Homo sapiens: one gene and its partners. The protein of the gene in region 2 purifies or fractionates together with the protein of the main gene of each other region. This does not show direct contact. Each region holds a gene or a part of one and is shown on either strand. Other genes may lie near its edges. The genes, in order: NME2, CCNG2 and PPP2R5C.

What was found.
Region 1: the proteins of CCNG2 (region 2) and NME2 purify together in Homo sapiens (affinity purification with mass spectrometry, with the first as the bait; 2 studies listed by BioGRID). This does not show direct contact.
Region 3: the proteins of CCNG2 (region 2) and PPP2R5C purify together in Homo sapiens (affinity purification with mass spectrometry; 3 studies listed by BioGRID and IntAct, with this or other methods). This does not show direct contact.

What each region holds. Positions count from the first base shown.
Region 1 is NC_000017.11:51,169,411-51,172,402, reverse strand, and holds the end of NME2 (nucleoside diphosphate kinase B), read right to left. Parts: intron 2,467-2,992; coding exon 2,354-2,466; intron 917-2,353; coding exon 799-916; 3' UTR 659-798; downstream 1-658. Other genes in the region: NME1-NME2 protein, read right to left, coding at 799-916, 2,354-2,466. UniProt on the Homo sapiens protein: Major role in the synthesis of nucleoside triphosphates other than ATP. The ATP gamma phosphate is transferred to the NDP beta phosphate via a ping-pong mechanism, using a phosphorylated active-site intermediate.
Region 2 is NC_000004.12:77,167,139-77,170,650, reverse strand, and holds the end of CCNG2 (cyclin-G2), read right to left. Parts: 3' UTR 591-3,512; downstream 1-590. UniProt on the Homo sapiens protein: May play a role in growth regulation and in negative regulation of cell cycle progression.
Region 3 is NC_000014.9:101,925,569-101,928,495, reverse strand, and holds the end of PPP2R5C (serine/threonine-protein phosphatase 2A 56 kDa regulatory subunit gamma isoform), read right to left. Parts: 3' UTR 519-2,927; downstream 1-518.

The DNA of each region.
Region 1 (2,992 bases), on a different chromosome or scaffold from region 2:
ATTTGTAATCAGCAGATACATAAATCTAGAGTATTTCCCTAGTCTGTATGTTTCACTCCAAGTTTCAACAAATCTTTCTTACAAGTGGCCAGGTGCAGCGGCTCAAACACCTGTAATCCCAACTACTCGGGAGGCTGAGGCACAAGAACCACTTGACCAACTAGGCTTGAGCCCAGAAGGTGGAGGTTTCAGTGAGCTGAGATCACGCCACTGCACTCCAGCCTGGGCGACAAAGCGAGACTCTGTCTCAAATAAATAAATAAATAGGCCGGGCGCGGTGGTTCACACCTGTAATCCCAGCACTTTGGGAGGCCAAGACGGGCAGATCACCTGAGATTGGGAGTACAAGACCAGCCTGACCAACATGGAGAAACCCCGTCTCTATTAAAAATACAAAATTAGCAGGGCGTGGTGGCACATGCCTGTAATCCCAGCTACTCAGGAGGCTGAGACAGGAGAATCGCTTGAACCCGGGAGGCAGAGGTTGTGGTGAGCTGAGATCGCGCCATTGCACTCCAGCCTGGGCAACAAGAGCGAAACTCCGTCAGGATCAGATCATTCTTTGACAAGCAGGATTGAGATGTACATAATGCTACTATAGCCAGAGAACCAAGTCACTTCTTTCAGCTCAGTATCAAATAAGCACAAGGAGACAGTGTCCGGCTTCCAAAAGCTTTATTGGCAAATATGCTCTATAAAAGAATGATCAATCCTGTTGCCTCTAAGTCAATGGAATGAAGAGCTGTGTCCAGGGACACACCACGCCGTGCTGAAGGAGACTGCTGTTGTGTCCACCTCTTATTCATAGACCCAGTCATGAGCACAAGACTTGTAGTCAACCAGTTCTTCAGGCTTAAACCATAGGCTGATTTCTTTTTCAGCACTTTTTACTGAATCACTGCCATGAATGATGTTCCTAAGAAAGAAAACAATTACAAGTTGCCATGTTTTAAAGTGCAAAAGTCTGTTTAATGGGTACCGCAATGGACAGCACTCCAGACTCTTTCAGCCAAATTGCCACTTGAAGCAACAGACCAATTTATACCCCCAAAGCATTTCCTTTTAAAAGCAGCTATACAACTGTAAAAGTGCTTGATTTAAAACATTCCTTGTTTCAACTGTATTATGCTTCCAAGTCTGGCCTCCCCATCAAAAGAGTGCTTGTACCCCAAGATTGCCGAAGACATAAAACACTCCTCCGCAAATTTTGGAAAATACAGTGATACTCAAACCCACTGCAGATCAACATCCCAACTAGATATGATGTGTTCATTATCATAGGCCAGCTCTGCTGCATTTTCTTATAACACTGATTTGCAAAGCCCAACCATGACATAACACTGCTTATTAATAAAAATCCCTTTATCCCACTTCAACCTCACAACTTTGTAAAGGTTTTGAACAGACTGTGTACAGGTGAGGGAATCAAAAGGTTAAGTGACACACCCATGGACAAAGTACTCATGGATGTGGCTAGAATGCTTCCCTTCTCCACACCTAGCATTTTTTGCTGTACTACACAGGAATTACCACTTATGGCTCCCTTGTTGTCTTGCTTAAAATTAAGTAACCTAGGGAAGAAGCTATGTGTGAAAGCTTTTTTTTTTTTTTTTTTGAGACGGAGTTTTGTTCTTGTTGCCCAGGCTGGAGTGCAGTGGCGTGATCTTAGCTCAATGCAGCCTCCACCTCCCAGGTTCAAGCGATTCTTCTGTCTCAGCCTCCTGAGTAGCTAGGATTACAGGCATGCACCACCATGCCCTAATTTTTTACTTTTAGTAGAGACGGGGTTCATGTTGGCCAGGCTCCAGGCTGGTCTCAAACTCCTGACTTCAGGTGATCCACCCATCTCGGCCTCCCAAAGTGCTGGGATTACAGGCGTAAACCCCTGGCCTGAAAGCTTTTATACAATGATATACCCAGCCTGAAAGTTTTTATACAATGATAATCACCAACTAAAAGTTCAGGCCAAGTGCGGTGGCTCATGTCTGTAATCCCAGCACCTTGGGGGGCCGAGGCAGGCGGATCACCTGAGGTCAGGAGTTTGAAACTAGCCTGGCCAACGTGGTGAAACCATCTCTACTAAAAATACAAAAATTAGCCGGGCGTGGCAGTGTGCACCTGTAATCCCAGCTATTTGGGAGGCTGCGGCAGGAGGATCGCTTGAACCCGGGAGGTGAAGGTTACAGTGAGCAGAGATGGCACCACTGCACTCCAGCTAGGCAGAAGGAGACTCCGTCTCAAGAAAAAAAAAAAAAAAAAAGGGCACAGATTCTTCTGAAAGTAGGATACGCCATGACGTCTGCTTTAAATGGTGTTGCATAAAAGTCATCCACCCTCCTGTCCCCGGACTTACCTGCCAACCTGAATGCAGAAGTCCCCACGAATGGTGCCTGGCTTTGAATCTGCTGGATTGGTCTCCCCAAGCATCACTCGGCCTGTCTTCACCACGTTCAGCCCCTCCCAGACCTCGAAAGTGTGAAAATGGATTTATAATCAGACCTGCCACTCAGGACAGGTAGGGTCTAACATTTACTCCTACCTGACACGACACATCAATGAGACCGATCAGTGACATGATTATCAGCTAACCCCAGCAGAGAGTAGGGGCCTATATAAAAACTGCATTCCAAACGTATTGCTAGGATTCAAAGAAAAGTCTGTCCAACTTGGGGACTTCCCAGTTTAGCTGAGACAGAGATAAACAATGTTGCAGAATCCTTATGCAGCCATCAACACAGAAGAACTGGTGAAGAAAGGAGAAAGTGGCCAGTCTGGAATAGGATCAGTGGGAAGGGCATCCCAGAAGACTGCTAGAAGAGGGAAAAGAAAGACTAACATGCTAGGGTAAGGATTCCAGGGAACAGCAGAAGGAAGAAAAAGGTGAACAGGAAATAGATCTACTTTCTCAACAATTTCACTGCCTCCCTATTTTACTCTCTCCAATTTTTTTTTTTTTTTTTTTTGAGACAGAGTCTTGTTCTGTTGCCCAGGC
Region 2 (3,512 bases):
TTTGAAATCTACAGAAAAAAATGTAATCTCTGGCTCATGGGCATGACCTCCTCCAGGCCTCTCAGGAAGAAATTTAGAACAAAGAACGGTGGTCAGAGTTCAGTCCTCAGCTCCCTCTTATCTGAGGTCTATGTGCTAGCGCATCCATTTGCTAGGGGTTCAGGTTTCTGGAAAACAACTCAGGGATATATATTAAGATGTTATCTGTAGTTTCTATAGGGGAACCAAACATCCCATGATTCTAACTTACTTGGCTATTGTTTTGAGCCGCTATTTGTTGCTTATCACATTTCTCTCTTACTTCTCAGGGCTAGCCAGATGCCTGGAATTTCTCTTGGAAGAACTCACGATTTTTTTTTTAATTTCCATGTTTGGGAGTAGGGAACAGGCCCCTAAGAGGGGTCTCTGACTCATCTCAGATGTAGTGGGCCTGGGAAATACGTGGATGTGGATGCCATGAAACAAGGCTGAAAAGGGAGCCGGGAACAAATCAAGCTGGGTCTTCTAAGCCGCAGTACGAAGTTGGAACTTGATGCTAAGGTGTGGTGAGAGCCATGAATTTTAATTAGAGGAAGCATATAACCAGCGTGTGTGTTTTAAAGTTCATTCTTTATTCTGTTAATACACTAATAATTCAAATCAATTTTAGGAAAAAAAGGAAACTACAGATAGGCATAACTTAAAAAAAACATCACCTGTAATCTCACCAGAGATAATCACCATTTGACCATAAATAACAAGCAATCTGTCTCACTTATCTATTACTGTTTAACAACCCTCCCCCAAAACCTCGTGGCTTAAAACAATAATTTGTTATTTCTAGTGAGTCTGTGGGTTGATTGGGATCGACTGAGTAGTTCCTCTGTTTTCTGTGGTGTAGCTGAGGATACACCCACATTCAGCTGGGAGCTTAAGGCTGGAACATCCAAGATAATCTCTCATCCTCAAGAGTCTCTCTCCACATGGCCTCTCATCTTTCAGTAATCCAGCTGAGCTTCTTTGCAGCATGGTGGCTAGCTTCCAAAAAGGATAAAAGGAAAGCTGCCAGTCTCTTAAAGCCTAGGCTTGGACATATACTAAATTTCTTCTGCTGCACTTCAGTAAGCAAAGCCATTCATAAGGCCAGCCAAAACTCAAGAGAAACAGACTCCACTTGTGGACGGGAAGAGCAGCATGTAGGCACAGGGATGGAAAGACTGACTGGCCATCATACTGGGAAACTATCTATCACACAATTTGATTTGCTAAACACAAAGTAAGTTATTGACCATTTCTGGTAGTAAATAGTTAGGAAAACTGAATTCCAGTAACAAATGCAAAATACCTTGTCCTTGTCCATATATGAATCTAAGTGGGTTGTCTCAATAAGCTGACAATTTGCATGTGTGATGAGGGAGGAGGGAGGTGGGAGGTAGCAGGAACACCATATTGAAACCTAGTGTTGAAATAAAAGAAATTGTAAAAAAGAAAAAGGCAGACTCTAGACAAAGAAAATGGTTAAAATTGTCACGAGGAGTGTTCTGAAGCCAATGCCTCTCTACAGTTAACCTGAGTATGTATTAATCCTGAGTGTGACAGGTAATTAAAACACATTATTTGTCTAACCACACTTCCTGGGAGGAGGAAACAGTAGCAGAGCCAAACAGATGAAGACCCAGGACCTAGGCACAATACTTCACCATGCGCAACAGCAAAGTGCGTGCACCACATCCTAGAAAATGACAGGATCAAAACCTGAAAGGTCAAATCTCTCGCCAAGTCAACGGGGGTAAGGATGAGGACAAAATGGTAGCTTTCTCCTCACCCTCTGCTCTGAAAAGGGCAGGGGCTTCTCAATTTTATTCATCACAGTCATGGGAAAGCCACCTGGTTGAATGGCACAGGAGGGTATAACCAGGCTCCTGGACTTGTCTGTGAGCCTCCTAATAATGCCCAAAGAGAAAGGATAGCGCTTCTCAATTTTCACCTCTCTTCCTCATCCACACTTCCACTGCCTTAGTTCAGTCAGACTGGTCTCCATGCTGCTACTCTATATTGCCCAGTTCATCTTCTGTATAGCTAACAGAGTTCTTTCTCAATACACATTTTTTAAGGTCTAGGAAATGACAAGAAAAAAAGGCCAGAGACAGGTGCAGTGTTCAGATTAGACAGAGACTTGTATGTCATGAATAGATTTTTCTCCTGATTGTGCGTGACCTACTCAACAATTTTTCAGGAGATAGTTAAAATTTTATTTTAAAAGGATATGTAGATAGGAAGGCAGAGACCAGGAGTAAGCCTGGAAGCTGAGGGATCACAAATATATTACAGTACCTCTGCTGATAAAGAGTACAGGTCTAAACCATGCCAATGGCAGAAAAAGGGGGGACAGAGAGATATAAACAGTGTAAACGAAATCATACAAATGATAGAGGCTGGTGACCTCCATAAACAGGCAAAAGGAGATGAGCATATCACCTAAGTTTCCAACATGAATAGATGGAATTATTCGCTGAGAAAGACATAAAGAACCAGCAGGTTTGGGAGTAATCAGAAACCTCCAAGTGGCATGGCAGGCCATGTGAATAAACAGGTTGCAAGCTCAGCAGAGAGGTCTCGACTAAATACACTGAAAACCACAGGGGGAAGAGATGAAGCCACAAAGATGCTTACCCAGGAAAAATATCCAGTAAGAAAAGCAATACAATCCTGCAGGAGCTAAAGAGAGTCTTGAGATTTGGTAAGCCCCAAACAACTTTTACATCTCAACAAATCAAAATCTGAAAGCAGAATATATTGCCCACTATTTACTAATATTATTTAGTAAGAGAGGAAAGGTCATCCTCAAGTAGGATTCTCCACTAGAAGGGTAGGAAAACATACCCCTATCTCCAGAGAAGAGGTGTTACATGAAAACCATATTCAGTGTACCTGATTTTCTAACTAGAGAAAACAAAGGTCTACAAAAATCAAACTAGACAGATGGGGAACCTATTGGGGTGGGGCAGGGGAAAGGACCACCACTTGCAAAACCACCTGATACTTTTGAGGTCCACAAGAGCCAGAAGCTGGCGGGGCCCTATCACAGCGAACACCCCATACTTATTAACCAAACAACTGATTAAAACTTGCTTTGTCTCCTGAAAGATCGTTCTAATCTGCCAACCTGAGCATTCTGTTCTACTTAATACCTGTTGCCTCTCACTGAAAATTAATAGGCATTCTGGTAATATACCAGTCTCTGAGAGCATACTTAATGAGTCCATCCCACAAAGAGGTCAATTGTCAAATGACAGATTCTCTTTCAGTATCTCCAAGGCACAGATGCCAAACCTAGAGAACTTCTGCTAGCCAGTTAGAAGGCTCACTCTGGAATCACTGTAGCCTCACCTAAAGTCTTCTCATTAAAATACATCAAGAACTTTTAACAGATTAAAAATTAAGATGTGATCCCAAACAAGGAGAATTCATTAATAATTTTATTTTGAATTACAATCTATTATCACTTCAAAAAGAGCCACTTCAGAAAACAT
Region 3 (2,927 bases), on a different chromosome or scaffold from region 2:
CGCCAGCCGGCGTGCTGACCACACGCAGCTATGGAGAGGTGAGGTTATAACCACGACACGAGCAGATAACACTTTAGTCCTGTTTCCATGGGCTTCTCGCAAGAGCATCAGCGAGGATAATGATCTCTCCACTGAGGAGGAGGTGGGCGAACTAGGATCCTAAATTCATACTTTCAGCAATTCCCTATTTTCAAGACTTTCATTTCTATAAATTGTATTGATTCACCTTTTCTTACTCAAAAAAAGCCCCAAAACCCAAACCAAACCAAGAGGCGGTCTATAAAAAGTCACACTGCCTTTTCCACTAAGTAAGTAAAAAAATCAGTGGATAGACTTAGCTTTGAACAGCTGTGGCTAGCATCTGGCGCAGCCAGCGCTCCAGGCGGGCTGGATGGAGATGGCCAGCCCCTCTGCAGTCAGCGTCCCTGTGTGTGGGCGGCCCTGACCTAACGGGAACCCGATAACGTCAGAGCCAGCTTGCTCAACACCATGGCTAAATTTAGTTTCATGATGAGCAATAAAATTCACATGTTCTTTATTTAGTCCATATGATACACCGTTTTTTAGAGTTTTTGAAAATTAGATAAAAGAGCATATTAAATGGCAAGTGTATGAAGTTTCTCTTCATAAACAATGTCAAAACAAAAAGTTTTGAATTACAAAATGTTAAAAAATATGTCGGTACTTAACATTTCACTAATGCATAAAGTTACAGATATTTTCTAAAGAAAAATAATTGTGCCACTTACCTATATTTGCTGTTTCTATGAACTTTTTTATTCTGTACATAGGACATTTTGTACAAAATATGAAGTCTACATTTTTATTACTTATTACCATAAAACAAAGATACAATGTATGTACAATATTAAAAGGAAGCCATACTAAAGCCACACTAAAAAGACACTTGGAATAGTGACATTTCTGATGTACAGATACATTTTGGAAAGAGTGAAGATGCCAAACGCAGAACTTTATGAAGAAAAACAGTCACCGGTTTATTTTCAATGTAGTACTTTTGAAATCAGTTTGGTACAGAATAAACAGTCTCTATACAATGATATGTAAGCTGACAATTAGCACAGGAGTCCGAGTACTAACTAGGGAAACTTTAGGAGGCCAAAATATTAAGTAATACTCTTGCCAAAGAAAATTAGTTTCTCTGAAAACTTTTATTTTTCTTTTTGGTGAGTGTTTGTCTTCAATAAAGAGCAGAAAGAAAACCTAGACAAAAAGATGTTCTTACACACTGAGCTTTACACAGTCACCCAAACATTGATATTTTGCTTTTTCCCGAGGGCAAAAAGAGAGTCTTCCCAGAAACCTCTCTCACAAACATACTGAACATCCAAAATCAAGGATATTTGAGAATCTATCAGCTAAAGACGGAAGTTCAAACAATGGTATATCAAAATACATAAGACGCTGCTTTATACAATAAAAAGCACCCTTTTTCCCTCAAAAGGAGAAGGCATCTAAACTGTTTTTTTTAATGATAGTTTTCATAATGGTAAAATGGAGAGATACTTGTCAAGTTTCTCAGGAAGTATTCATCTCACAAAGCGGACTTGTCCACTTTTAGCTGGGGCAATCTTCGCATTTCATACCTGCACTTGCTCTTACCACAAGAAGTCCCCTCCCCCCAGGTGATTTTCCTCCAAGACACGAGGACAGAAGCATTGCCAGTGGCTTGAAGTGACAGCAGTGGGCAGGAGGTACCAGAGCTGCACAAGGAGCAGTGTCTGCTTCTCACTATCTTTGAAAGGATACCCGAGACCTCGATGAAAAAACAGATCCTAAAATAAGCCACATTTTGTCTTTTATGCCTCAAGACACTTAACATTAAGTTATATAATCTTATGCCAGAGATGAAAGAAACTAGATCACGTGTTTAGAATAGCAGTACACATCTCAAGTAGCTTTCAAGCAGGATAAATAAGTCAAAATACTGGCCACCCTGAGAGAAATAAAGAATAGACAAAGCACTAAGTTTAAAGATTTTTCTCCTTGTGCTATTCCATCTAAAACAAAAGCTCAGTACATGCAAGGAACTCTGTGGAATATATAGCAGCATGTGAAGACCGATGAAAACTCAGACACTGTATTTTCCTTACAAGGTGTTGATAACGTGAGCTCTTTTCAACAGAAAGAGCTCCACTAAACGTCATCCTCGCTGGTGCCTCCTCCAAGCTCTCAGAACAGCACTGCAGCCTTCAGTGAAGGCAGCGGCAGTGCCGGCCCCGTGCAATGCTGTTGTGTTACTTTATGCTTAAAGGCGCTGCAGTTTGCATTAGGCTAAGAACTGGCTTAACTCAAAATGATTTTGCTCTAACTTTCCATAAAATGTGGAATTCTTAGAGACTATAATTTTATTAATTCAAGAGCCTTGTTGAAGGGCAACAATGTTTAAGTTGACGGAAACGAAATCTGCAAATAAAAATATTAACACATAATTTTAAAACTCCAATTTCTGTCAAGGTAGACAGAGCAAGCTCTTTTAAGATAAATTTCAGAGCAATCTCTTTTAAAATAAATCTCTTCTACAGGCTTACTCCTGGAATCCTGGAGTACCACAGACTTGGAAATATGGCTTTAGGTACACACAAGAGAAGGAGACACGGTGTTCATGTCACTCATCAAAGTGAAGAGACCCCTTAGAAAATACCAGCGGCTGAGGATTGTCATTTGCCCAGTACGTTGCGTGAGAACTCGAAAGCAAAGAGCCATTTCACTGAGATTGAAAAACAAACAAAACGAGAACTGCTGGCGTAACAATCACGTGGAAACCATTTCAAAGGCTGTAAAGTCTTAAAAAATAGGTCCTATTTTTTAAAGCGTTCCTTTGATTTGGAAAACACTGATGTTATCACAGAACCACCTATGTTAAAAGATCCTAAGTTCCATTTGGGAGAACATGAAGATGAAGG